Linked DNA regions of Homo sapiens. The protein of the gene in region 3 purifies or fractionates together with the protein of the main gene of each other region. This does not show direct contact. Each region holds a gene or a part of one and is shown on either strand. Other genes may lie near its edges.

The links.
Region 1: the proteins of IPPK (region 3) and MRS2 purify together in Homo sapiens (affinity purification with mass spectrometry; 2 studies listed by BioGRID and IntAct, with this or other methods). This does not show direct contact.
Region 2: the proteins of IPPK (region 3) and GOLGA5 purify together in Homo sapiens (affinity purification with mass spectrometry; 2 studies listed by BioGRID and IntAct, with this or other methods). This does not show direct contact.
Region 4: the proteins of IPPK (region 3) and TMEM63B purify together in Homo sapiens (affinity purification with mass spectrometry; 2 studies listed by BioGRID and IntAct, with this or other methods). This does not show direct contact.

The regions. Positions count from the first base shown.
Region 1 is NC_000006.12:24,398,362-24,405,953, reverse strand, and holds the start of MRS2 (magnesium transporter MRS2 homolog, mitochondrial isoform b precursor), read right to left. Parts: upstream 3,019-7,592; 5' UTR 2,908-3,018; coding exon 2,718-2,907; intron 787-2,717; coding exon 713-786; intron 1-712. UniProt on the Homo sapiens protein: Magnesium transporter that mediates the influx of magnesium into the mitochondrial matrix and regulates magnesium metabolism. Also permeable to calcium, sodium and potassium ions.
Region 2 is NC_000014.9:92,797,305-92,804,304, reverse strand, and holds part of GOLGA5 (golgin subfamily A member 5), read right to left. Parts: intron 6,898-7,000; 5' UTR 6,868-6,897; coding exon 6,324-6,867; intron 1-6,323. UniProt on the Homo sapiens protein: Involved in maintaining Golgi structure. Stimulates the formation of Golgi stacks and ribbons. Involved in intra-Golgi retrograde transport.
Region 3 is NC_000009.12:92,646,104-92,653,135, forward strand, and holds part of IPPK (inositol-pentakisphosphate 2-kinase), read right to left. Parts: intron 6,537-7,032; coding exon 6,470-6,536; intron 3,472-6,469; coding exon 3,350-3,471; intron 2,046-3,349; coding exon 1,956-2,045; intron 1-1,955. UniProt on the Homo sapiens protein: Phosphorylates Ins(1,3,4,5,6)P5 at position 2 to form Ins(1,2,3,4,5,6)P6 (InsP6 or phytate). InsP6 is involved in many processes such as mRNA export, non-homologous end-joining, endocytosis, ion channel regulation.
Region 4 is NC_000006.12:44,137,533-44,144,564, reverse strand, and holds part of TMEM63B (mechanosensitive cation channel TMEM63B), read right to left. Parts: intron 6,086-7,032; coding exon 6,048-6,085; intron 5,099-6,047; coding exon 4,956-5,098; intron 4,858-4,955; coding exon 4,806-4,857; intron 4,314-4,805; coding exon 4,205-4,313; intron 3,538-4,204; coding exon 3,467-3,537; intron 1-3,466. UniProt on the Homo sapiens protein: Mechanosensitive cation channel with low conductance and high activation threshold. Osmosensitive cation channel preferentially activated by hypotonic stress.

The DNA.
Region 1 (7,592 bases), on a different chromosome or scaffold from region 3:
TTTTGTATTTTTAGTAGAGATGGGGTTTCACTGTGTTAGCCAGGATGGTCTCAATCTCCTGACCTCATGATCTGCCCACCTCGGCCTCCCAAAGTGTTGGAATTACAGGCGTGAGCCACCACGCCCGGCCGGCACACCTTTTTATCAAGACTTTTTTTTTTTTTGGAAAAAAAAAAAAAGCCTACAAAGAAGTTGCAAGAATATTACAACCAATTCCCATAGAGCTTTCACCTAGAGTCACCTTTGTTAACATTTTGCCCCAACAGCCTTCTTTCTCTAAAAATACGTGTGATACATTATCTTATTCATTCATTTCCCCCCTCATCCCCACCCCCGAACCATTTCAGAGAAAAGTTAGAGATCATGACCTTTCAAAGCATGCATTTTTAAATACTACTCTCTGCTGCCTTCAAAATGCTTCTGCCTGCGTATTATCTTGCAGAACATAGGTTCAAGCCTCTTTATGGCTCTGAATTGTGATTGACCTGTTCTAGTATTAAAAGGGGAGCTGCAGTCATTAGCAAAGGTTCAAGATCATTGTTAAGCAAATCTAGCAGGCACTTAGGTCACTGGCCAGGCACAACAGCCACGACATGTAGCTATGATGATTATAAAGCTCAAAATAAGTAGTATCTTGGCCAACAGTCCAACGAGTTAACTTATGTATGGGAAGCACTTTCTGTACGATTTCCAATGTACTGTACATACTCACCACAGTAAATACTGGGGCTACACTGGCTAAAGTGGCTTGAGAGACGTCAGAGGTTCTAAACCGGTGCACTTCACCTGAAGAATAAATTAAGAGAATTCCTGTGGTCACATGATTGGTTTTCACATAGAGCTAAAATACAACTCTCAAAGTATGTGGAGGCCTTCAGACTATTTTATTATTTTTAAATATTTTTCCTATAAGAAAAGAAGAAATACTCTTCTTAATTTTAACATCTGTTAGTGACTATCTTAGGTTTGGCAGGGAATGATTTTTAAAACTAATGGCTTAGGTGAGGCATTAAAATAACTGATGGATTCCAATCACCCTTTTACCTTTCTAATTATTACTGATATCTCAGAGTTGGATGAACAAATGTGCAACATCGTGTTCTGAGATTTAAGAAAATGTCTGGTCTTCCTTTTCGCATAATTTAAAAGACTCTTCATGCACATTTGGTAGTAGATACATTTTAGAAAACATAGGTCCTAAGTACCACCTGATCTTTCAAGCATTCCAGTTGACTGGCTCATAAATTATGAAACCTATGATTTTACTTCTTTTCTACAGATATCCTTTATAGTGAATACTTATGAAATACCCCCACTGAGCTGAAATGACAAATCTTTATTTTAAAATTGTCTATTTAAAACGTGATTAGACTGAGTCGAAGTGAGCGGTGAAGTATAATCAAGTACATTTAATGACTGACAGAGGACACTGTTTTGTGCTTCCAAAGTAATTACACTGATTCCAGAGACTGTAGAAAAAAAAACCTATTTCTGATCTTTTTTCTACTACATACACGTAATGATTGTTGTAATTTGTTAGTATCTGAAGTTTCATTTCCCTTTTACAAAATACAAATTATCACTATAAGGGTAAGATGAATAAAGGTAAAAGGCATTTGCTGATTACAAATGCCTTTCAATGTTTTAATGTCACAAATTAGAGTGTAACCGGGATTGAGATTGTGAACGTCAATGCTTGTCCTAAAAGTTTCCTCCAACTTGCTGAAACTGGATTCCCAAGCATTATCAATTGAGGGTGCAGAGCATGTAACCCAACTTAGCCTCTCCAATAAGTGGAGAATGAGGTGCTGACGAGGAGTTACTTTGGGAGGCTTTTGAGAGCACAATTGAGAAAACATATTTGAGGACACTGCTATGTTCTTAATAAAGTCATTCATTTCAATACCTTTTATTCCTCAAATATTTGCACTCACATTTGTGAAAATCTTAACTTTTCACCATGCTTCAACATTTGGTGAAAAAATAAACAGCAAATAAGATTTTTTTTTCTCAATCCGATCTCCCTGGCTGTTTACTTATAGAGTACTGTAGTTGAAAGTAAGTCGTTCTCAGAAACAACTCAGTCTTTAGCCTCACTTCTAGGTGCGTCCCCAATCTCCGTGCAACTGGACAACTGTATAAATGTGTCCATAACGAAGAAACAGAAAACAGGGAAGTATTAATTTATACTTATGACTTCCGAACAGATGAAATCCTTGTTTAAAAACACCTCTCGGCCAGGTGTGGTGGCTCACGCCTGTAATCCCAGCGCTTTGCGAGGCTAATGCGTTAGGATGGCTCGAGGCAAGGAGTTTGAGTCCAGCCTGGGCAACATAGTAAGACCCTGTCTCAAAAACAACACAGAAAAAACCTCTTACAAGAGCACTTAAGCGGGTGTTAACTAACGTGATCACGGTCTGTAAACGATTCCTAGGTTGTTCCTATGGTTACATAATCTGCAGCAAGGGCGGTGGAGGAGAAGGCAGAGGGTTGGCCGCTGGGACCCCGGCAGGGCACAGCGCACATAGCAAGGTCGCATTCTGAGCGAGTGGGACGCAGCTCGGCCCGCGGGCCTGTGCAAGCTCACAGGACACGCGGGAGGCCGAGGCCTGCGGAGGGCGCGGAGCAACAGGCGCGCCGCGCCGGACGGCTGGGGCAGCAGTCTAAGGTCACTGCAAGACCAGCGTCCCAAGGCTGTTGCCGGGGAAGGGCAGTACCTGCCACGCGGAGCCGGTCGGGCCCGCAAAGCTGCGCCGCTCGGCTCCTTCCAATCAGGTTGGCTCGGCGGCCGCAGGCAGCAACGGGAGGACCCACAGAGGTCACGTCCAAGGCCAGGGCACACAGCGTCCGCCGGGGAAGTCTCATCGCGCGGGGCAGGAGGCAGGGTAAACTGCGCAGGCATTCCATGGTGCTGGAGCAAGAAGCAGGCAGCAGCCAGACCCCAGACCTTCATGCCGGACGCTGGCTGCTCAGGCCGCAGCTCTGACCTGTCGCTACCGCCCGACCTGCAGACTCTGTGCACCAGGCATGCGCGGGGCGTGCCGCGCCTGCGTGCTACTTCCCCACGCATGCTCGGAAGGTACCTGTGGGCGAGCCTGTTAAGTCCACAGCCAATAGACGTTTGCTTGCCTACCTGTACCTGCACCTGTACCTAAGTGAGGGGGCAGGCGGGCTGGGAGATGGGTGGAGCACGTTTACCTGCACTAAGTGAGCTGTCCAACCTAGGTTCTTGGGCGCTTGGAGTGTCATGGTTTTGTAGTTTGTGGAGAATTTTCATACCTATGAAAATTGCAGTTTGGAAATGAGCAGGTTACCCATTCCCACATCATTTAATTTATATTTAAATTTAACGTGGTGTAGGGAGCAAGAGGGAAAGCTCCTACTTTTGCCCTCTGAAAGTTGCTGGAATGAACTAAGTAGACAGATTAGCAGGAGAAAAAGGCATACAAAATTTGCTTAACGTGCATAGGGAAAAATCACAGAAGAGTGATTACTCAATAACTCAATTAAGGTCCAGATGCTTGTATACCCTTCTTTGTTGAGTAGAGGGAGATAGGTATGAATGGGCCCGAAAGCCAGACAGTGGTTTGCAAATGATTCTCCTTGGACATTCAGTGGGACAGAAGTACAAACAATCGCTTGTGGACAAGCTGTGAAACTTCACTCTGAACAAAAATTGTCCTATTATACAGGTAAAGTTTCCCAGGTAATCTCTTGGAGCTACCCTCAGAAGTATCTATGAAAAGTCTCAGTGTGGCTATGACTTTCAGTTTTTGTCTCTTCTCTGGGTGATTAATCTCTTCTGATTATTTAATGCGATTCCTAAGGAACGGGTTTTAAGACAATTGCATTTCTTTGGAAAAGAGTTTTCTCTGTCAGATAAGGAAATTCCTTATCTGGCTGTGCAGGAAAAGAGAGCCCCTTCAGGTGCTTGGAAAAAGTAAGAGTATCAGAGAGACAAAAGGAAGGGGGAAGGTGAGAGAGAGAGGCCTTGATTTTTAGGCTTCTTTCTGAGACCCTTTTAATTTCCTTTAATTCAAAGACTCAACATGCCACCGGGCGTGGTGCCTCATGCCTGTAATCCAGCACTTTGGGAGCCAAGCACTTTGGGAGGCCAATGTTGTGGACCACTTGAGGTTAGGAGTTCAGGACCAGCCTGGCCAACATGGCAAAACCCGTCTCTACTAAAAATACAAAAATTAGCCGGGTGTGGTTGCAGGTGCCTGTAATCCCAGCTACTTGTAAGGCTGAGGCATAAGAATTGCTGGAATCCAGGAGGTGGAGGTTGCAGCGAGCCCAGATCATGCCATTGCATTCCAGCCTGTACTGCATTCCAGCCTGTACGACAGAGTGAGACTCCCATCTCAAAACAAACAAACCCCAAAGACTCAGCATGCCAAAACATCATATTTTGGGGTATTATGGTTTGAGCCCCAGTAGTGGCAAAAATAATCAACTGTCATATGGAATGATGTCATGTATTAAACTTTTGCTATAAAGAATGAGGAGCACAGACACATAAGATTTCTATTCCATATTTAATAAAATGTAAGATAGCATCAATTTTAAGGTACCATTATTTTATGTACCACCAAGAAAGAAAAAAAAACTGATAAGTTATGCTTTCTAAACATGTAGATTGAAAGACATATCTCAATTCCAGTCTTTAAAATATGAAAAAAGTCTTAGGTTAAATACAGTATGTATGCATATTTTAAAAATATGAGTTAATAAATTTATTGTCCCTTCCACAGTAGTAATACAAGGCAGACACAAGTTCCACAGACTTCCTTTCAATATCTATGTATGGACACAAAGCTAAGGAGACAGAGATAGAAACATTTTATTCTGCAGGGTACTGGGACTGGGGATGGAGTAGGAGGGCAGTGCACAAAGAGAAGCCTTCACAGAAGAGAGGATGTTTGACTTGATAATGTGGGGAAAAGAAAGAGAGATCAGATTGTTACTGTGTCTGTGTAGAAAGAAGTAGACATAAGAGACTCCATTTTGTTCTGTACTAAGAACAATTCTTCTGCCTTGAGATGCTGTTAATCTGTAACCCTACCCCCAACCCTGTGCTCCCTGAAACATGTGCTATGTCACCTCAGAGTTAAATGATTAAGGGCTGTGCAGGATGTGCTTTGTTAAACAAATGCTCGAAGGCAGCATGCTTGTTAAGAGTCATCACCACTCCCTAATCTCAAGTACCCAGAGACACAAAACACTGCAGAAGGTCGCAGGGACCTCTGCCTGGGAAAGCCAGGTATTGTCCAAGGTTTCTCCCCATGTGATAGTCTGAAATATGGCCTCGTGGGAGGGGAAAGACCTGACCGTCCCCCAGCCCGACACCCGTAAAGGGTCTGTGCTGAGGAGGATTAGTGAAAGAGGAAGGAACGCCTCTTTGCATTTGAGATAAGAGTAAGGCATCTGTCTCCTGCTTGTCCCTGGGCAATGGAATGTCTCAGTGTAAAGCCCGATTGTATATTCCATCTACTGAGATAGGGGAAAACCGCCGTAGGGCTGGAGGTGGGACATGCTGGCAGCAATACTGCTCTTTAAGGCATTGAGATGTTTATGTATATGCACATCAAAAGCACAGCACTTTTTTCTTTACCTTGTTTATGATGCAGAGACATTTGTTCACGTGTTTACCTGCTGACCTTCTCTCCACTATCATCCTATTGTCCTGCCACATCCCCCTCTCCAGGAAACACCTGATAATGATCAATAAATACTAGGGGAACTCAGAGGCCGGTGCCGGCGCGGGTCCTCTGTATGCTGAGCGCCAGTCCCCCGGGCCCATTTTTCTTTCTCTATACTTTGTCTGTGTGTCTCTTTCTTTTCCAAGTCTCTCATTCTACCTGATGAGAAATGCCCACAGGTGTGGAGGGGCAGCCCAACCCTTCAGATAATTGAAGGCAAAGAAAAACTTTAATCATTGCTTCCAGGGCGTTGAAGTCTGGAAAATCGCTGAGTATAGAGAACATGGCTGGTAGATTTTTCATTTTACTAAAGCTTTAATGATGAGATAAGTATTTCAAACATATTACATGCCTTCAGAGATGCTTCTTTGAGAAAATATGTGATAACTTTCTCTTTAAAACAAAATTTGCACCCAGCACAATGAGACAGCTCTAAGATAACTTTTGCAAAGTCTAAGGAAAACTCTGGAACCTGTCCAGACGTACAGCCTCGTAATTCGTGGCAAAGATTTTTCTGAGAAGGGTGGGAACCATTGGAGGACTTCGAGCAGAGAGGTAATGAGCAGAGGTAACAATCTGATTTATGTTTAAATGGGTCACTCTTGCTGTGTGGGAAAGAGACTACAGAGAGGCAATTGGAAGCAGAGAGATGGTGATGATGGTTTGGGCTAAGGTGGGGATGGTGGAGAGGGGAAGATGAGTTGGGCTTGGTACCATATATTGAAGGCTGAGTTGACAACATTTGCAGATGGGATATAAGAGAAAGAGAGGCATAGATGTTGCTCCAAAATGTGTATCCCGAACAGCAGGGCCTTGCTGGTGCTATTTACTGAGATAGGGAATTTTGGAAAGGAGCAGTTTTTTTTTTGTTTGTTTTGTTTTTTGTGACGAAGTCTCGCTCTGTCGCCCAGACTGGAGTGCAGTGGTGTGATCTCTGCTCACTGCAAGCTCCGCCTCCCGGGTTCACGCCATTCTCCTGCCTCAGCCTCCCAAGTAGCTGGGACTACAGGCGCCTGACACCACGCCCAGCTAATTTTTTGTATTTTTAGCAGAGATGGGGTTTCACCGTGTTAGCCAGGATGGTCTCGATCTCCTGACCTTGTGATCCACCCGCATTGGCCTCCCAAAGTGCTGGGATTACAGGCGTGAGCCACCATGCCTGGCCAGAAAGGAGAAGTTTTTAATTGAAAACTGTGGCTCAAACCTGTAATCCCAGCACTTTGGGAAGCCAAGGTGTGCGGATCACCTGAGGTTGGGAGATCGAGACCAGCCTGACCAACGTGGAGAAACCCCATCTCTACTAAAAATACGAAATTAGCTGGCTGTGGCGGTGCATGTCTGTAATCCCAGCTACTGAGGGGGCCGAGGCAGGAGAATCACTTGAACCCGGAGGTGGAGGGTGCGGTGAGCCAAGATCGCACTATTGCACTCCAGCCTGGGCAACAAGAGTGAAACTCCCGTCTCAACAACAACAACAAGAACAACAACAAAAACAAGAACAACAAAAACTATGGCATGGCATTTGGTTTTGAATGTTAACTTCGAGAGATGTCCTAGACAGATATCTGAGTGTAGATGTCAAGTAAGCAGCCTGGAATTCAGGGAAGGTGTTGGAGATAGATAGTTACATTTGAGACTGTATAGAATATTTAAAGCCACAAGATTGGAAGAGATCTCCCAAGAAGGCCGAGCACAGTGGTTCACCCCTGTAATCCTAGCACTTTGGGAGTCCGAGGCTGGTGGATCACCTGAGGTCTGGAGTTTGAAACCAGCCTGGCTAACGTGGCGAAACCCCGTCTCTACTAAAAATATAAAAATTATTGGGGTATGGTGGCAGGCGCCTATAATCCTGGCTACTCGGGAGGCTGAGGCAGGAGAATCGCTTGAACC
Region 2 (7,000 bases), on a different chromosome or scaffold from region 3:
TGCCTGAGTCCAGGAGTTGGAGACCAGCCCGGGCAATACAGTGAGAACTCGTCTCTACAAAAAATTTTTAAATAATATAAAAAATAAAATATTAAAATTCAAAAAATAAATTAAGTATATATCCAAATGTGGGATGATATCTAAGGCAGTATTCTGAAGGAAATTTATAGCCTTGGTTACATTAAAGATGAAAGGCAGGAAGGAAGAAAACTAATGAGTTGTATATCCATCTTAAAAACTATAAAAACAGCAGAACAAACCCAAAGAAAGCAAAAATTAACAAAAGAGGAAATAAACATACTAGAGAGGATCAGCATAACCAAAAGTGGTTCCCTGGGACAGATATAAACAACATTAGGCCATCAAATTTTAAAATGTACAAGATACTGAAATCTATCAATTGCACAATACTTATCGTGCAGTTTATTGCATGTGAATTATACTTCATTAAAGCTGTTTTAAAAAGCAGGCATTTAGTGCAGTGCCAGAAACAGGGTAAGGATTCAATATATGCCAGATACTGATATTCTTCACACAGTATGCATGATCAAGCATTGGTTTTTGCAGGGTTGGTATGAATAACTAATGTTTGGTTGCGTTGAAAGTTTCAGCTGTGACCCCTACATTATTTTCCTGAAATTAAATAAGTATAACCCCTCAAAATGTGTATGACATTGACAAATTCTTGGGGAAAAAAACGTAACTTACCAAAAACAGATTCAAGAAGAAATGAAAAGCCAACTGAATCAATAGTTAAAACCTTTCAGTAAGAATACCCCAGGTCCTGATGGTTTTAGCACAGAGTTCTAGCAAACGTTCAGGAAATAAATAATCTCAGTCTTACACCAATTAATTAACACAACAGAAAAAGAAGGAATACTTTCCAATTCATTTGATAAGGCTAATATAACTGTAATACTAAAACCTAACAATATCGCAGGCCGATTTCGCTTATAAAATAAATGCAAAAGGTTAGGTGTGGTGGCTCATGCCTGTAATCCTAGCACTTGGGAGGCCAACACAGGAGGATCCCTTCAGCTCAGGAGTTCAAGACTAGCCTGGCAATATAGTGAGACCTTGTCTCTACAAAAAATGAACAAAATTACCTACGCATGGCGGTGTGTGCCTGCAGTCTCAGTTACTATTGAGGCTGAGGTGGGAGGATTGCTTGAGCCTGGGAGATTGAGGCTGCAGTGAGCTGAGATCCCACCACTGCACTCCAACCTGGGCGACAGAGTGAGATCCTGTCTCAAAATAATAAAAATAATAATAAATAAAAATTAAATTAACTAAATAAATGCAAAAATCCTAAAGGGAATATTAGCAAACTGAAAGTTAAGTTTGGTTTTATATTTAAAAGTATCAACTGGAGCTGGAGCTAGGTGCAGTGGTGTGCACCTGCATCCCAGTGAGTTGGGAGGAGGAAGTGGGAGGATTACTTGAGCCAGGAGTTTGGGGCTGCAGTGCACTATGATCATACATGTGAATAGCCGCTACATTCCAGCCTGGGTAACACAGCAAGATCCCATCTCTATTAAAAATAAATAAATAAATTGATTTATTAAAAATAAATAAATTGATTTGTATACTATATTAATATTAAAGAAGAAAAACTATATTATCTCCAAGGGTAGAGGAAAAAACATTGCTAAAATTCAACATGATAAAACCTCAAACTAGACATTTATGGGAACTTCCTTAAACAAATAAAAAAACTATAAAAAACCTAATGTAAAATCATACTTAGTGAAACAAAGTATTCCCTCTAAGACAAAGAACAAGATACAAAACTGGTCGTTGAGTCCTAGCCAATGAAGAAAAGGATTTTTTAAAAGATAAAAGGGCTAAGAAGAAACAAACTGTCATTATACACAGATAATTGTGTTGTTGAAAATCTAAATTTATGTCCAGAAAAACATGAAGATTAAGAGCCATCTAGATTGCTATGTATGTACACACAAAAAAACAACAAAAAATACACCAGCAATAACAAAGCAAAACATTTTAAGGAATACCACATATAATTGTTTCAAAAAATATAAACTACTTAGGAATAAATCTAACATAAAGTATATAAGATCTTTATGGAGAAAACAATAAAATTTTAATGAAAGACACTACAAAATATGTTGAAATTATATCCCATTGGTGGATAAGAAAACTCAGTATAGCAAAAGTGCTGACTCTCACCAAACTGTCTATATAGAAGCAATTAATTCCCAATAAAAAGACCAACAGAGTTTCTGTGAAACTTGATGAGCAAATCCTAAAATGCATACAGGAGTGGAAAGGTCCATGAACAGCCAAAACATTTCTGAAGAAAGACCACAAGGTGGAAGAAGCTACCCTATCAGTTATCAAGACACATAAAACTACATTAATTAAAACAGGGTGGCACTGGCACAAGGATACACAAATAAACCAATAAAACAGAATTAAGTGGCCAGAAACACACTAATGAATACTTGATATATAAGACAGGTGGTACTGCAAATTGGTAGGGACAAGAGACTCTGTTCAATAAATGATGCTAGAATAGCTGATTTCCCTATGGCAAAAAAAAAAAAAAGAAAAAGGGAATTGAATGCCTATCGCACACTATAGAAGACAATACAGAAAAATATCTTTATGATCTCAGTGTAAGGAAAGATTTTCCAAGACACAAAAAACACAAGCCACATGCCATCTACATTAAGAACTTCTATTCATTGAGATGCCATAGACAGAGGGGAGGGGAAAAACCAAGGTAAAACTGGAGGAGGAAAAGAATTTAGAATTTAGAATATATAAAGAATGTCTATGAATCAAGAAGAAAAAAGACAAATAATCTAACAGAAAAAAGTTGATAAAAAAGACTTGACACTTCCAGAAAATGAAAGTTCAATAGTCAAATATCTGAAAAGATCTTCAACCACACTAGTAATGAAGGAAATAATATCAACGACAAATCTGATCAGCAAAAAGTAAAAAGTCAAATTGAAAATAAAAAATGTTGGTGAAAATGTGGAGCAAAAGAAGTTCTTAACCATAGCTGGTTAGAGTATAAATTGGCACAACCTCTGCAGAAAGCCACTTTGGCATTACTAGTGTAGCTGAACATTGTTAAACCCTACAGCTCAGCAATCCCATTTCTACACATTTCTAGGCATCTCAGGACATTGGTTCTCAACTGGGATGATTTTGCCCTGCAAGGGACATTTGGCAATTTGTGGAGACATTGTTGGTTGTCACAATTGGGGGTGCTACTACCACCTAATGGGCTAAGAGGCCAGAGATGCTGCTAAACATCCTACAAAGAACAGGAGGGCTTCCCACACTATTGAATTAATTTGGCCCAAAACACCAAGTCTCAAGGTTGAGAGGTCCTACCCAAGAGAAACAATTTTTATAACTCCTGTGTATTATAACCAGTTCTAATTCATTTCCCTGACAACGAGGTTCCCTTTAGGTCCATTCTTTCTAATTAAATGCAAGCTGCTTTCTTTAAAAGTACAAAAATAAGCTATGTCAACTCTTGACTTAAAGATCTCTACTAGCATCACACTGGCTATGGCAGCCACTTTCAACTTTTATTGGCTAAGAACCACCCACAGAACAACAACAACAAAATCAGATGCCCTGGCTCCATCCCCAGAAAATAACGATTCAGGAAGCCTGGGAAGGCACTCAATAATTCATTTTTAAATTAACAACACACAAGCGATTCTAAAGCCTGTTGTTCAGGAATCAATCTTTAACAATGATTATAGAAGTAATGGGTTTAATTGCATAAACAGTATGACACAAGGGCCTTCACAAACAGGTCCCAACTTTGTTTGCTAGCTACATTTTCTTCATCACCCTCCAACTCACTCAGTGTTTCCAACTTTGTTACAATGTTTTCTACTCTACTAGCCTCTTAGAGTCTGTTCTCTCTGCATGGAATGCTGTCTCTAACTTTTTACCTGGCAAACTCCTGTTCATTCTTTAAGACCCAGCTAAAAATACAGACCCTCTGTGAATCCTTTCTGAATACCCTAGGCAATTAGTTACTTCCTCCTTCATACTTCCACAACACTCTGACCATACTTAATTGCTACATTTACTAGACCACAAGTAAATTATCTGTTTACATGTCTAGCTCACCCACTGGACACTTCCATATCCTTGCACCTAGTAGGTTCTTTGTGTAATTAATTGAAAGATAGCTGAGAAGAAATTTTGGAATATGTGAACATATTAATCAACTGCTACTGCCTGATCCTATTTTCACAACCCAAAACGTCTTCTTCTATACAAGTTTTTGTCTTGAAAATACAAGAAAGATTTTATTCACTAACAGCCAAGACAATGAAAGAAGCTATAACATCCAAGAACATGACAATCTCCCATCAATAATCAACTCTATAAAGAATCCCTGGCCAGGTGTGGTGGCTCACGCCTGTAATCTCAGCACTTTGGGAGGCCAAGGTGGGCAGATGACTTGAGGTCCGGAGTTCAAGACCAGCCTGGCCAACGTGATGAAACCCTATCTCTACCAAAAAATACAAAAATTAGCCAAGGGTGGTGGTGCACACCTATAGTCCCAGCTACTCGGGAGGCTGAAATGGAGAATCGCTTGAACCCAGGAGGTGGAGGTTGCAGTGAGCTAAGATCGCGTCACTGCACTCCAGCCTGGGCGACAAAGCGAGACTCCGTCTCACAAAAAAATAAATAAATAAATAAATAAAAACATTAAAAAAGGCCAGGCACAGTGGCTCACGCCTGTAATCCCAGCACTTTGGGAGGCCGAGGCGGGCGGATCACAAGGTCAGGAGATCAAGAGCCTCCTGGCTAACAGTGAAACCCTGTCTCTACTAAAAATACAAAAAAAAAAAAAAAATTAGCCAGGCGTGATGGCAGGCGCCTGTAGTCCCAGCTACTTGGGAGGCTGAGGCAGGAGAATGGCATGAACCCAGGAGGTGGAGCTTGCAGTGAGCCAAGATCAGGCCACTGCACTCCAGCCTGGGTGACAGAGTGAGACTCCGTCTCAAAAAAGAAAAAAAAAAAAAAATCCCTATGGCCAGGCCACGGTAGATCATGCCCATAATCCCAATGCTGTGGGAGGTCAAAGTAGGAGGATCACTTGAGCTCAAGACCAGCCAGAGCAACACAGTGAGACACTGTTTCTATTAAAAATAATTTTTTAAAATTAGCTGGGCACAGTGGTGTGCACCTATAGTTCCAGCTACTCAGGAGGCTGAGGCAGGAGGATCGCTTGAGCCTGGGGAGGTCAAAGGTAGTGCGAGCTGTGATAGCATCACGGCACTTAAGCCTCGGCGATAGAGCAAGACCCTGTCTCAAAACAACAAAAGAATCCCTGCAAGAACCTACTATCAAGTTTTTTGCCTTTTTTCTATTTTTATCTTTGGAGACAGCGTCTCATTCTACGGCCCAGGCTGGAGTGTAGTGGTACAATCTCGGCTCACTGCAACCTCGACCTCCTGAGCTCAATCAATTCTCCCGCCTCAGCCTCCCAAGTAGCTGAGACTACAGGCATGCACCACTGTGCCTGGCTAATTTTTGTATTTTTTGTAGAGACAAAGTTTTGCTATGTTGTTTAGGCTGGTCTCAAACTCCTGGGCACGAGTGCTCTGCCTGCCTCAGCGTTCCAAAGTGCTCGGATTACAGGTGTAAGCCACCACGCCCAGCCTATAGCTATTTTAAAACAGTTAGTAGGTACTTGAATTAGCCACATTTACCACGTTAATCTCATTTCACAAGAAAGAAGGTGTACTTGTAGAGGTAATCTCAGAGGGAATTAAACAATTGAAAACAAGAGTTCTAAGCTCTTGCTTCACTACTAGGTCAATGCCTTCAACTCTTCAACTTGGATCAAAGTTCAGTCTCTCAGCTTTATTTGTGGAGGATGTGGGGGGAAAAACACACAAAAAACACAACCCAGAAAATACGTGAAGTACAGCCTCCTGTCATTTTTATAATCCTAGTAACAAAAAGATATCAACTGGGATAGTCCCCGATCCAAACTGACATGTTTTCTTTCAGATTTCAAAATTTTCTTTTTTTAATCTTAAAATGTCTTAGAGAAACAAATTTGAAATACTTTGTTAGATGCTGAGTGGGTGAAGTTGCCCTCCAGACAACATGAAGTCCCTGCTACAACTGTCTATTGACTAATAGTAGTCAATGATGTCTCCCTTGTTTACACCACACATTTGCAGAGAGTCTGCCCTTACACCAGTGGAGACAGATTCCATAACAGTAGATGAGAAACACCATCGGATCATATGATGACACATTCAATTTGCTTAACTCTAAAAGAAATAAGAGGACTGATTAACTACCGTGGGTTTGGCTCCCAAAAGAATTTTCTTCAATGGTTTTGATGGTGGTTACACTGGGGTTCACAGAACTGACACTTGATGTCTGAGAGCTCTGAAAGACAGGTGTCTTGCCTTTTTCCTTTCTGATTTCCACCCTCCCGGTAGGCTCCTTCTGTGAACTATTAAGAAAATCAAACAGCAGCTCATCATCAGGTTCTGACTTTTTTCTTCGCACAAAATGGGATGAAGGCCTAGGAACAGATGCATTTTCAACAGGATGAGAGGCCTCTACTGGTGTCCGAGATCCTACTTTCACATTTGCAGTGCCAGCTAAGATGGTGGCTTTTTGATTTCGAATGTTATCAGCTGCTGATGAAATATACGTAGATTTAGGTCCAGTCTGATATATCAAATCTGTATTTTGCTGGTGAAGTTCAGTATAGTCAGTATTTTTGCTATATATGTTGCTGGCATTGTCTTTCCTACTGAGAGCTGTTGCAGCCCCTTGATCAACTCGGTTTAAAAGATCTTCTGCCTTTCCAGCAAGATCAACAAACCAAGACATGATGGCAGCAGGATAATCCTATTGGCAAACCTGTAAAAAGGACATAAAATGATCAGTGTGGCATAGTGGCAGAGTATGATAAATGGTTAAGACCAGACTCTGGAGTCAGGCAATCCTGGGTTGAAATCCTAAC
Region 3 (7,032 bases):
TTGGGGGAGGGAGCAAAGCTTTAGAGGAGCAAAACTTTGTCTATGATTGAAATGGAGTTGGTATTAACCTGAACTAGACTGTTCAGGTTATTATCTTAAATTAACACTCAGAGCAACGAGGCAGAAAGTCAACAAGAATGAAGGCTTGAACAACACTATGAACCAACTAGACCGAACACATCTATAGAAAATCCACCCAGCAACAGCAGGTTACACATTCTGCCCAAGCAAACATGGAACAGTCTTGAGGAAGAACCTTATGTTAAACCACAAAACAAGTCTCAATACATTTTAAGAGTGAAATCATGCAAACAATGTTCTCCAAATACAGTGGAATGAAACTAGAAATCAGTAACAAAAGAAAATTTGACTCACAAATGTGTAAAAAGTAAACACTCCTAATTATCAGTTCGTCAAAGAAGAAAGCAAAAGAGAAATCAGAGAATGAATTAAGATAAAATGAAAACACAACATACCAAAATGTATGGGATGAAGAGAAAGCAGTTACTTAAAGATTTATTAGAAGAATGATCTTAAATGAATAACCTAACTTTCTACAATAAAAAGCTAGAGGCCGGGCACGGTGGCTCACACCTGTAATCCCAGCACTTTGGGAGGCCGAGGCAGGTGGATCACGAGGTCAGGAGATTGAAACCATCCTGACTAACATGGTGAAACCCCGTCTCTACTAAAAATACAAAAAATTAGCCAGGCATGATGGCGGGCGCCTATAGTCCCAGCTACTCACTGCACTCCAGCCTGGGTGCAGAACGAGACTCCGTCTCAAAAAAAATAAAAAAATAAAATTAGAAAAAGAATAACACACTAAGCCCAATCCAAGCACAGGGAAGGAAACAGTAAAGATTAAAGTGAAGACAAATGAAATAGAAAATGGGGGAGAGGGGAGCAGAAAACTGAATAAAACCAAAAGTTGTTTCTTTGAAAGATCAACAAATATGACACAATCCTGTGGCTAGACCAAGGAAAAAGAGACAGAAACCAAATTACTAAAGTCAGATATGAAAGAAGGGGACACTACTACTGACCTGTATGCCATCACATTAGATGAAAATGGACAAATTCCTAGTAACACACAACTACCAAAAAAACCCACTCAGGAAATAAGAGAATCTCAACAGATTGGTAACAAGAGACTGAATCAGTAATCAAAAATCTTCTAACAAAGAAAATCCCAGGACCAAATGCCTTCACTAGTGAATTCTACCAAACATTTCAAGAAGAATCAATACCAATACTGAAACTCCTTCAAAAAACTGGAGAGTGAAAAGAAAATAATTCCTAACTCATTCCATGAAGCCAGTTATTACACTAGTACCAAAGCCAGACACCACTAGAAAACTACACACCAACATCCCTTATGATTCAAAAACCCTCAACAAAAAACTAGCAAACTGAATTCAGCAGCATATAAAAGTATTATACACCATGAGCAACTGGGATTTATCCCAGAAATGCAAGGTTGGTCCAACATGCGAAAATCATGTAATATACCATATTCATAGAAAGAGGAAGACACCTTGCTTTGAAGTGATAAAAATGTCAGCAACTAGATAGAAGTGGTGATTGTACAACCTTGTGAAGAGACTAAAACTGAATTATATATTTAAAAGAGTGAATCTGGTGAACACGGGCCGGGCGCAGTGGCTCACACCAGCACTTTGGGAGGCCAAGGCAGGTGGACTGCATGAGTCCAGGAGGTGGAGGCTGCAGTGAGTATGATTGCATCACTGCACTCCAGCCTGACAGGGTGACAGAGACCCTGTCTCTAAATTTAAAAAATAAAAAAGTTGAACATGAATCACTTTGTGAAATAAAATGTCAACTAAAAATATCCATATTTTCTTTTACTCTTCTGAAAACTGTGTGTGTCCATGCCTCAGCCCAGATCCCCAGCGTGCAGCTAGAGTAGCCCACAGCTGGGCATTGGCTCTCACCTTGAGGTGCTGGTGCATGCAGTATCGACAGACCTTATGCTTCATCTCATGCGTGACATCACTCGAGAAAGGAATAAACCCACATTTTGGCTGTAAAATAAACAAATAAGGAGGAAAAATATTTAGGAAGAAATCACATACCTCTAAATAGACATATCACTGACTACAAGATAATGAGTGCAGCAAGATAATTAGGCATAAATGGCCCCAGAAGCTGTTTTCATTTGCACCTCCCAGCGGGAACAACACTTCCTGCATCAGATCACACAAACATCTCCGCTAGAGGACCCACGGCCGGAACTCTCACTGGGGAGGGTCAGTGGTGCCTCTGCACTAGCTCAACACAAGCACAACACACAATAGCTTCATGCTTTCATTCAAGAATGTGACTGCAAGCCTCTAGTAGTAGAGATGGACCCAGGACTCCCAGCTCCAAGAATCGGAACCATTGTTCCCACTGACACTAGCACATGGCCCGACAGAGGCCCATCTGATAGTTGCTAGGCTCCCAGAAGGTCAAGGAAGCCCCAGTGCCCTCTAAAAGCTGCAGCCTCTGAGCATACACCACACGCAGGCCTGTGCTGAGCCTCGGGCACTGGAGATGGTGGCTGGGGAAGCAGAACATCCACCCACAAGTGAGGAGGATCAGGAGGCATGAGCTCAGGCCAGGAGTGTGACCCAGAAATTGCTGCCTTAGAGTTGGAGGAGGGGAACAAAGGCCAGGGCATGTGAGGCAGCTTCCTGAGGGACCCTGACAGCCACCCCCGACATGGGAAGCAGAGAGCTGAAGCAAGGGGGGCCCTGGCCCATCCAGCCCCCACTGCCTGGCACCAGAGAAATTCAGGACTCCTGGCCATGACACACCAGTGCCTCTGAGGGTCACACTGGCCTTTGTGCCTCCAGGAAAATTCGTCCTGAGCAGGACAAAGAGAGCTCCCCAGTCTACAGGGCAACCTGCAGATGGGGCTCCTGCAGCACAGCAAACAGCAGCCAAGCACCAAGCAGGCATGGCCAGCAGGGAGGGGCACAGAGGAAGAACCCAGAGGACCCTGGCAAGCTGTGCCCTCTGAGGAAAACGGGTCAGGGGGACCCAACGCGCTTCCCTCTGGTGACCCTCAACCAGGGCTTGTTTTAGCCCAGGCATGCAGGGTGGGTGGGGTCTTCTATCATGAGCTACCAGGAATGAGCCTAAACCTGGGATCTGGGAGCCATGGCAGGAACCAGAACGCAGGTGGGGGCTGTGGAAGGACAGAAACAAGTGGAGTTTCCAGGAGCCAAGGGTGCCTACCACTCACTTCAGTGGGAACTGGAACCCAAGGCACGTGACTCTTGGACTTACTACCCAAGACTGACCTTTCCCCTTTACCCACACCATCTGCCCCTCGACAGGTCACCTTAATCTCTACACACAGAATCGGCCGGTGCTCTGCAAAGCGGTAGGTTTGGAGTCTGGTTAAATTAGGAAGGCACATAGCGTAACCACTGAGAGTATCCAGGTCCTTGTCACAGCGAGACTCTGGAAAACAGAGCAAGGGTCACACAGAGCAAGGTCAGTGAGAGAGATGAGATGATCCCTGCCCAAAACAGGCCCCGCCTTGTCCCTGGTTCCAGGGGGCATCTCTGTACCTGATGAAAACCTCATGTCTCCCTGGGGATTGTGGGACACACACAGTAACAACGTGGTTTAGGCCAGGTGAGGTGGCTCACACCTGTTATCCCAGCACTTTGGGAGGCCAAGGCAGGTGGATCATGAGGTCAGGAGTTCGAGACTAGCCTGGCCAACATAGTGAAACCCCGTCTCTACTAAAAATACAAAAATTAGCCAGGCATGGTGGCACGTGCCTACAGTCCCAGCTACTCGGGAGGCTGAAGCAGGAGAATTGCTTGAACCCTAGAGACGGAGGTTGTGGTGAGCCGAGATCGTGCTACTGCACTCCAGCCTGGGCAACAGAGCAAGACTCTGTCTCAAAAAAAAAAAAAAAAAGGCGGGCACGGTGGCTCACACCTGTAATCCCAGCACTTTGGGAGGCCTAAGTGGGCAGATCATGAGGTCAAGAGATCAAGACCATCTTGGCCAACATGGTGAAACCCCATCTCTACTAAAAATACAAAAAATTAGCTGGGCGTGGTGGCATGCACCTGTAATCCCAGCTACTCGGGAGGCGTAGGCAGGAGAATTGCTTGAACCAGAGAGGCAGAGGAGGTTGCAGTGAGCCCAGATTGTGCGCCACTGCACTACCGCCTGGCGAAGGAGCAAGACTCCATCTCAAAAAAAAAAACAAAAACAAAAACAAAAAATAACTTGGTTTATGTAGGGGGTAGCTTCACGCCTTATGGTATCGGCTCAAACTCTGGAGAGGCTGGAGACTGCAGTCAGCCACACCGATGGTCAGCCATGTCGATGTGCCTGAGCCCCAGTGAAAACTCTGGACAACAATGCCTGGTGAGCTTCCTGGTGGGCACACTCCATATGGGAGAGTGAATACTGCCCACACCACCCCTGAGGAGAGGACCCAGAAGCTCATGCCAGGTCTCTCCTGGACCCCACCCCTGCACCTCTCCCCTTGGCTGGTCCCATCTTTATCCTTTTCCTGCAATAAAACATAACCATAAGTAAAACAGTGAGTTATGTTGGTCCTTCTAGCGTATTATCAATCCTGAGGGTGGTCTTGGGGATGGTCCCCTAATTCCACAACACCCTTAGCCCAGGAACTTGAAGAGGAGGGGGCTGCAGGCTCTACCTTCTCTCACATCTAGGCCCTTCCCAGTCCCCAGTGCACCAATATTTCCCCAGCACCAGATCTGCTGGAACCCGTGGTGTGGACAGAACCAAACAAGCCTGGGCTCCAGGCACCCCAGGGACAGGCTTTCCTCCTTTAACATAATGAGCCTTACTCCAAGTCTGGTTTTTATCACTGTGGTGTGATAAACCTCCCACGGTTGTTATGAAATGGCAGGCTGAGCAGCAGAGCAGTTGCAGACAGCACCCTGGAGCCGGGCTCAGACTGCATTCACCGAGAGGAAGAACTGGAGCCTAGCCACTGTCCTGTGGCGTTCCCGCCTCCCCAGCCTTTCCTGCAGTGTGAAGCCCATTCCTCCCTGCCCCAGCCAGAGACTGCAGACCCAGAGAATGGTTTGCTTTCATTTTCCAAATCAAATCAGGAAAAAATTTTATACTGGCTAATTCCACACCCTCATTGCCTGGCTGTGCTCCGGGCAGAGGCATTTCCACCCTCAACTCACGAAATTTATCTCTTTGATCACTGACTGAAAAAAAAGGTTTGACCTGATTCCTGTCATAAGGCCACCAGCAAGTGCAGAAAAGGGAGTGGGTGGGGATGGAGGAGAAAGGGAGAGGCGAAGGGATGGGAGGGGATTGGGGAAGGACAACATGAGGATGGGGAAGGTGATGCCACAGAAGGCCCTTGGATTCCCTGTTCCTCAGAAGGACACAGACCTAGCCTAGACTCCGGTTGGGGACAGCTCCCTGGGCTGCAGACCCTCCTGGGCCAGGCCCTCCCTCCTGAAGCTCAGGTCACCTCAGTTTCCTTTTGCCTCTCCCAGGCCTCTGGGAACCCTTCCCGTTCCTAAGTCTGCCCCAGACCCTCCACCTCCAGCTCCTCCCTCATGTTGTTTTCTGTGGTATTAATTTGTTCTTTTTTGTTCGTTTGTTTGAGACGGAGTCTCACTCTGTCACCTGGGGTTGGAGTACAGTGGCGTGATCTCAGCTAACTGAAATCTCTGCCTCCCGGGTTCCAGCGATTCTCCTGCCTCAACTTCCCAAGTAGCTGGGATTACAGGTGCCCGCCACTACGCCCAGCTAATTTTTGTACATATATATATTTTGTTTGTTTGTTTGTTTTAGTAGAGAAGGTGTTTCACCATGTTGGTCACGCTGGTCTCGAACTCCTGACCTCAGGTGACCTGCCTGCCTCAGCTTCCCAAAGTGCTGGGATTACAGGCGAGAGCCACCGCACCTGCCTTTACTGGTTCTTCATCACATATTCTGTGCAGTGCTGTGGTTTTCTGATACAGAGAATTGTATCCATGAGCTCCCAGGATTTCTATCCCTGATAATGAAGTTTCTGGCAAAAGAATTACTGAAAACTGGCTGGGCACGGTGGCTCACGCCTATAATCCCAGCACTTTGGGAGGCCGAGGTGGGTGGATCACGAGGTCAGGAGATCAAGACCATCCTGGCTAACACGGTGAAACCCCATCTCTATTAAAAATACAAAAAAGTAGCCGAGCATGGTGGTAGGCGCCTGTAGTCCCAGCTACTCGGGAGGCTGAGGCAGAAGAATGGTGTGAACCCGGGAGGTGGAGCTTGCAGTGAGCCGAGATCGCACCACTGCACTCCTGCCTGGGCGACAGAGTGAGACTCCGTCTCAAAAAAAAAAAAAAAAAAAGGATTACTGAAAAATGCATATACCTAACATGGGTAATCATTTCAAACACTTTTCAAATGGAATATTTTAAATTACAAACAATATCTGTAAGTTAAACACCCTTACCTGGTCTTTCAGATTGTATCTTTAAACAAAGCTGTTTCACAAACTCTAAAGGTAGCTGAACGACCTCCTGTAAGAAAATACATGAAATTCTCAGTGTGAATTGCACAATGACATGAACACAATGCCACAGAACTGCATGCCTAAAAACAGTTGAGCTGTTGGTTTTTATGTTATGTGTAATTTATAATATTTTTTAAAGTTTATTGCTTAAAAAAAAATCAGTGTGTGGATTTTGGGAATAAAAGCTGCTCTATTATTTTCAGGACATGTCCAGGTTAAATAGAGACACCAACATTTCACTGCAATCAGGGTGGCCAGCTCTCAGAATGGCTGGGCCCACGGTGGTGACCAGCCTCAAAGCCAGCTTCTCTCGCCACAAAGCACCCCTTCCGAGCCCCCTTCTGGTCTCTACAGCATTTATGGACCCAGAGCAGTTCTTAGACCACATGGAAGACCCTTACTGACCACTCAGACAACCTGAGAACCTCACGCTTCCACCTGAGGAGCAGGTCAGCATCTGAAGAATCACTTGTCTCAGGAAGATGGCCTGTGCCTCCTCAGCC
Region 4 (7,032 bases), on a different chromosome or scaffold from region 3:
TTGAATGCATGAGTTACTGTTCTAAAGTATTAAGATAGTCCTCATAAACCCATGAGAATTTAGAAACTTAAATCTGGGATAGGGTCCTTGAGATGTACTTCCCAGGAGGCTAGAGACCTTTCCTCTGATATTGTTCCTCAAACCATTTGAGGTTTCCCCTTTGGAAGGGTGAGCTCTCATTCTCACTAAACTCATCTCTAATCCTCTAAATCCAACCACACAGGCCCGTTGATTTGCATGCAAGATATTTCCTAATTGTGCTGAGACAGTCTTCCAATCCAGACAGACTGCAGACTTGGACCACAAGCCCTGCCTAATCCTGACAATGAGCTCAAGCGCTGTCTCTTAGTCCTCACCATATACCCAGCCCTGTCCCAACAGCTTGTATATAGCAGGTGTTCAATACACATGTGGTAAATGAGCGGATCAATGAAATGGCTACTCCATAATGCTCATCCCAGTGATCCAAAAAACTCCAATTAGGACTAGAGTCTCCCTTACCCCTGCTTATAGGCTGACCTCTCCTAAACAAAACTATAGACCAACCCCTGAAACACAACTAGGATCTTCAGCTTCCCAAGGGCACTGATCAGGTCTGATTATACTCTGTCTCCCAGGCATGAAGCACATAGTAGGTATACAATAAATGTGGGCTGAATGAATAGACAGTTGACTAGTAGGGTTCACTCAGGTCTCTGTTCAAATGCCACGCTGTCAGAGTCCCTCCCTGTCTATCCCATCAGAAATAGCAACCCTTCCCAACCCCTCTTACCCTGCCTGCTTCCCTGCTGTGGTTTTCTTAGCACCTACCTCTTCTTGACACAGTCTCTATTACTAGTTCATCCGGTCCCTGTCCACCCCTCCCCACTAAAATGAAAGCAAATGAGGGCAGGCCTTCTGTCGTTTACTGCTATACCCCCAGCTCCTCCCCAAGCAGGCACATAGCAGGTGCTCACTAGATATTTGTATCAAAAAACAAAAACAAAAACAAAAACAACAAACACCAGATTTCAATACAAGCTGACAACTGATTCCAACTGGATGGTAATATTAAGATGTCACCTAATTCATTGTTACAAAAGATGGTATGAGAAAAAAAAAAGATGTCACTAATTCTGAGTACACACTGTCCTTAATCCTGACCCAGAGTGCCCTTTAATGCTGATGACAGCTTGAACCTCAGATAGGACCCCAAATAGTTCTCTCATACTGACAAGAATGATCTAATTTTGACTGCTGTTTTATAGCCTGTATAAGGGCTGGGCTTGTTTCTAATTTATTTGTGCCTGGCACATAGAAGGTTGTCAATAACTGCATGTAGTATGAAAGAGTATCCATCTACTAATGCTGATCACACACCAGTCCTTAATCTTCTAACACAGGCTCTGGAATCTGACCCTGACCAGATAGATGTTCACTCTCAATCCTGCCCAAACACTATCTCTGATTGGATCACACACTGGCCTGACCCAGGACAATGAGTGAACTCTGATTCTGGCCAACTGACAGGTCTGGACCTCAGATTAAACCTTGATTCTTTACTTTCTTTCTTTTTTGAGACAGGGTCTTGCCCTATTACCCAGGCTGGAGTACAGTGGCGCAATCAGTTCACCACAGCATTAGCCTCTTGGGCTCAAGCCATCCTCCCACCTCAGTCACCTGAGTAGTTGGGACTATTGGTGCATGCTACCATGTCTGGCTAATTTTTATATTTTTTGTAGAGATGGAGTTTCGACATGTTGTCCAGGCTGGTCTTAAACTCCCGGGCTCAAGCAATCTTCTCAAGGGGATTACAGGCATGAGCCACCACACCTGGCCTAAACCCTGATTCTGATGGTAGACTGAGCCCAAATCTCAACCTCAGTCTGGGCCATGATCCAGACCACCAGCATCCTTTATCATGACCACTGGCCAGCTCCTGATTCTGACCACAGACTGACCTCAGAGCAATCTCTGATCAGACCCTGGACTAGCTCCTAAAGCCGACTGCCATACTATGAACCCCCTGAGAACTCAATGATTTTTTTTTCTTTTTTTGAGACAGTCTCGCTCTGCCGCTCAGGCTGAAGTGCAGTGGCACAATCTCGGCTCACTGCAACCTCTGCCTCCTGGGTTCAAGCGATTCTTCTGCCTCAGCCTCCTGAGTAGCTGAGACTACTGGTACGCGCCACCATGCCTGGCTAATTTTTGTATTTTCAGTAGAGACAAGGTTTCACCAGTAGAGACGGGGTTTCACCATATTGGCCAGGCTGGTCTCAAACTCCCGGCCCTCAATGATTTTTTTTTTTTTTTTTTTTAAGACATGGGGTCTCATTATACTGACCAGGCTGGTCTTGAACTCCTGGCCTCAAGTAATTCTCCCATCTTGGGCCTCCCAAAGTGTTGGGATTACAGGCGTGAGCCACCGTGCCTGGCCTCTTCTATTTTTTATTTTTTGAAACATTTGAAACAGGGTCTTGCTCTGTCACCCAGGCTGGAGTGCAGTGGTGCACAGGACTCACTGCAGCCTCGACCTCCTGGGTTCAAGCGATCCTCCCACCTCAGCCTCCCAAGTAGCTGGGACTACAGGCGCACGCCACCACACCTGGCTAAGTTTGTATTTTTTGGTAGAGATGGGGTCTTGCTATGTTGCCCAGGCTGGTCTTCAACTCCTGGGCTCAAGTGATCTGCCCACTTTGGCCTCCCAAAGTGCTGGGATTACAGCCATGAGCCACCATGCCTGGCCTCATTCATTTTTTACAGTCCCAAAGCCCACCACAGTAACTTATGACTAACAGCACTTGAGAAAGTTTGCTGAGTGAACAGATGCCTGTGTGAGAGTAGCCCTAATCCTGTGGTATAGAGACTGTCCCTACACACCCCCATGGAGGGGCCCTTCACTGATTCCCCACCCTATGAGCTGCGCCCCAAGGTGCATCCCTAGCCATGGGGTGACCAGGTAAGTTCCCTCTTTGCCTCATTATACCACCTCCCTTTTCTCTAGTTTCTGGCCATAGGTCTGCTCTACCCACCCCAAAACATAATTCTAGAGCTGAAAAAGCCTCAGAGAATACACAGTTCAAGTTCTCCTGGACTCCTTGGAATCCACTGGAAACCAAGGAGCTTCTCCCTGTCATGGCTGCACACAAACTCCAGAATGCTGCTTTTAATTTTGAAGAAGATATGTACTCCAATGGACCTGGGTCAACAACCTATGACCCAGTCTGAGCCAGGAGGAGGTTTGGGGGTTAGGGGGTTTGAATGACTCACTCTTCAGGTTTTTGTCTTATTTTTCCTGTTCTTAAAGGGGCCTATCACCCGACCCAAGTGCTAAACCACCCTGGAATCGGACATTTCTTCCTGGATCTAATCTCTATCCCACCCACGGCAGAGCTCCAGGCTAGGGTATAAGGATGTTCTTAGAGTTCAAAGGCAGAGAAGGCTCTGCAGCAGGGCTTGAGGGTAGGGGGAAGCGTGGCTTACTCACTCAAAATGCTTCTTGATCTTTTCTGACTCTGCATATTTGGAGATTCCATTGATGAAGAGGGTCCGCTTCACCTGGGTGACAGGGGAGTGGGTTTGCCTTCTGAGGCTTGACCCCAGTGGAGCCAGGGGATGTGAGGGGTGGGGGGCACTAGAGAAAGAGGCTTTGTTTTGAGTGGGTAGAGAAGTAGGTGAGCAGAGGGGAACAGATGGGGTGGGAGGAGGCCTTAGTTATGGATAAGCCAGGTCCCAGGGAAAGCAGGGGAGTGTTTCCAACAGAAATCAGGCAGTGAGCCTAACAAAAGAGCCACGCCGTCCCATGCTCTTGAGGGGTTATAGAGGCAGAAGGGGGTACTACTTTCAGCTCCTTAGACCCTGAGAACCCAGCACAGTGGCTGGCATGGAGTAGGTGTCCGGTTCTGGCTTGGTGAGTGCATGTAGAAGGGGAAGGAATATTACTATCCTAGGATCAGCCACTGCTATTTTCCCAAGTGCTGGGCACAGCACGGCTGTTTCTGTGTATTCCCCACAACCTTGGGGGAGGTACTGTTGTTATTCCATTTTACAGATGAGAAAATCATGGCTTGGGAGGTTATGTAACTTGCAGGATGGGAGCTCCTGAGCTGCTGTGCCAGCATTCAAACCTAGCTGACACCTCTTGGGGCTGAGACAAAAGAGGCCTGCAGGGAAGGGAAGGGAAGAGGCTGGGGATGGGGCAGGACCTGGGCTCTGCTCCACGCACCAGATCATCCTCCTTGTAGCGCATCTTGGAGGTGTGTCTACGCATGCTGTAGACGGTGAGCAGCAGATACAGGAAGGCGAAGGAGGTGTGCAGCCATAGCAGGTTGTTCCTGGGAGAAGCAGAGAGGATACATGGGAGCCACTGGGGCTAGGACACACTCAGAGGAGACACCTCAGCCTGTCAGTGTTAAACCCTTGATACAGACAGGGCCCTCTACTGCCACCAGCCTTCTGGCACTGACTCCTCGCAAGGCAGGCCCACATCCCACATCCCCTAGACACCAAAATTCTTCGATTCCAATGAAAATATCCCTGATAGGTCACCTTTCTACGCCCTACCCACTGGTTACAGTGTCTCCAACTGCCCCAGCTGGCCCTCCCTGGTTCCTGAGATTTCACCCTCCTCTTCTGTATCCTCTTCATCCTTGGGGGATCCTCAGCAGGCATTTCCCTCTTCTGTCTCCAACCCAAGCCCTCAGGGACCCATAGCCATCCCTGTAGGCTCTGCTCCCATCAACGCAGCTGCCTTTCCTCCCTGTCCCACATCATGGCCCAGACTCTGGTCGTAGACCTTGGCCTGGCCGACCAGCTTCGCATCTTACCCTGATTTCAAGTTGGCAATGGTGGTTCTCCCAAAGCTGTAGGCATTGTTCTCTGTGGGGTGGGAAGAGGGAGAGGATGATGGTGGGGTCAGGGCACATCCCCTCCAGCCCCATCCTCTCTCCACCCTAGCCGTCCTGGCCCTCACTGACCCAGCAGGTCCCCTGAGAAGTTGACAGGCAGCACGATGCCTACGGAGAGGACGCCCACAACCACCAGCAGCCCGATGATGTGCCGCTGAAAGGACAGGTAGTGCACGGCATCGCCCCCACATTTGTCCCGGATCTCATCATCCCTGCAGCCATACGGGTTGGACAAAGGAATTAGGTTAGGACCAGGGCAAGAAGGGGGCTGCAACTTGCCTGCCCTCACCCACTCCCACCCCAAACCCACCCTAGCTCCAGCTGATCTGGCAGTAGTATAGGGCTGAAATGGGACTTCTTGGTCCCCTATTTTCTGTGAAGGGAGAGGGGAGAAAGGGAGAAGAGAGGGGGAGGGAGAAAAAGGAGAAATGCATGGAGAAGGGGAGGGATGAAGGCAGAGGGCTAGAAGGAAAAGATAGGTAAAAGAAAGAAGAGACTGCAGAGACAGGAAGGGGAAGAAGAAAAATGAGGAATGCAGAGAAAAGGGAAGAAAAAAGAGAAATATCTGAGGAGGGAGGAAGGCAAGAGAGGAGGAGGACCAGCAGGAGGAGGAGTGGTGAAAGAGGCAGAAGTGAAGGAAGGATGGGAGGAGGGGCAGCAGCACCTCATGGGTGTGGCTGAGCCTGGCGTAGTGAAGCCCGGGTACCCTTGGGGGAGGCCTGGGGGAGTGGTGGCGGCAGTGCTGACCTGTCCTGGCTTCCTGCCTTTCTCAGCGCTCACTGCCTGCCTGCTGGACTCTGGCTGGATCTCCTGAGTTCTGCCTGCAGCTGGCTGGCTGCTCCCAGCCTACTGCTGCCCCCACTCACTGGCTGCACAGAGGTTGAGGCAGGGGCTCCACCCCCTCCCTCAAGGTGGGGCAGGGCAGGGAGAGAAGCGGGGGGGCCGGCAGGGGGTCACAGAGGAGATTATGGGGTCAAGTGAGTGTTCAGGGTACAGCAGAGGCTCAGGCACCCGAGGCTTGGCCTTTGAGAGCAGGGAGGAGGGTGCTGTGCTGGCGAGGAGTGCTAAGGCCCTGAAAGCTGCTGGCTTCTGAATTTTGTAGGGAGATGCCAGGTTCTGAAGTTTCTCTCTTTCTTTAGAGCTTGAAGATGGTCCACTTACTTTATCCTGAAGATGGCTGTCAGCCAGGAACAGAAACCCTGGGGGAACAGAGGGCTGTCAGCGGGAGTCCCCAGCCCACCAACCCGAACCTCTCTCCTCCCTCAAGTCCCACCCATTCTCATAATTACCTCCAGGCATAGCTTCCACACCCCTCACTAAAAAAAAATCCTTATACCCTCAGAACTAGCTTATACCCAAAAAGGGAGAGAGAGAGGGAAGGTCTCAGCCCTCAAAGAAAAAAGACCAACACTAAACAGGTTTATCTGTGAATCCCCATGTCCAGATCTACAGATTTCTGCAAATACCCTGTGGCTGTGTGGGCCAGGGTGGGATGGGTGGGGCTTGGGGTTCTAAGGTTAGCAGGACCTCCAGACCTCCGGCTAATAAGTTTGCAACATGGCTGCCAAAAGCAGAGAAGAGGGCCTTGCTGCCTGAATTCCAGCTATTTATCCTCTAGTCTACCCCAGAAGGACAAAAGCCCAGGGTCACTATGAGCTGCAAGGTATCTCCCCACCTCCGGCCAGGTGCGGTGGCTCACGCCTGTAATCCCAGCACTTTTGGAGGCCAAGGCGGGCGGATCAACTGAGGTCAGGAGTTCGAGATCAGCCTGGCCAACATGGTGACACCCCGTCTCTTACTAAAAATACAAAAATTAGCTGGGTGTGGTGGTGCGCGCCTGTAATCCCAGTTACTTGGGAGGCTGAGACTGGAAAATTGCTTGAACCCAGGAGGCGGAGGTTGCAGTGAGCTGAGATCACACCACTGCACCCTAGCCTGGGCGACAGAGCAAGACTCTGTCTCAGGGAAAAATTAAAAAAAAAAAAAAATCTCTCCCCTCCACCCTCCAGGCATGTAAAGGCAGAGAATGGGGATATTCAGGGGAGGGCTGCGCAGAGGGCACCCTGCCCCAAACTCCATCCAGCAGAAGGTCCAGACATAACACAGGATGGGGTAGAAAGGTGCCTTTCGGCCGTGATTCAGGACC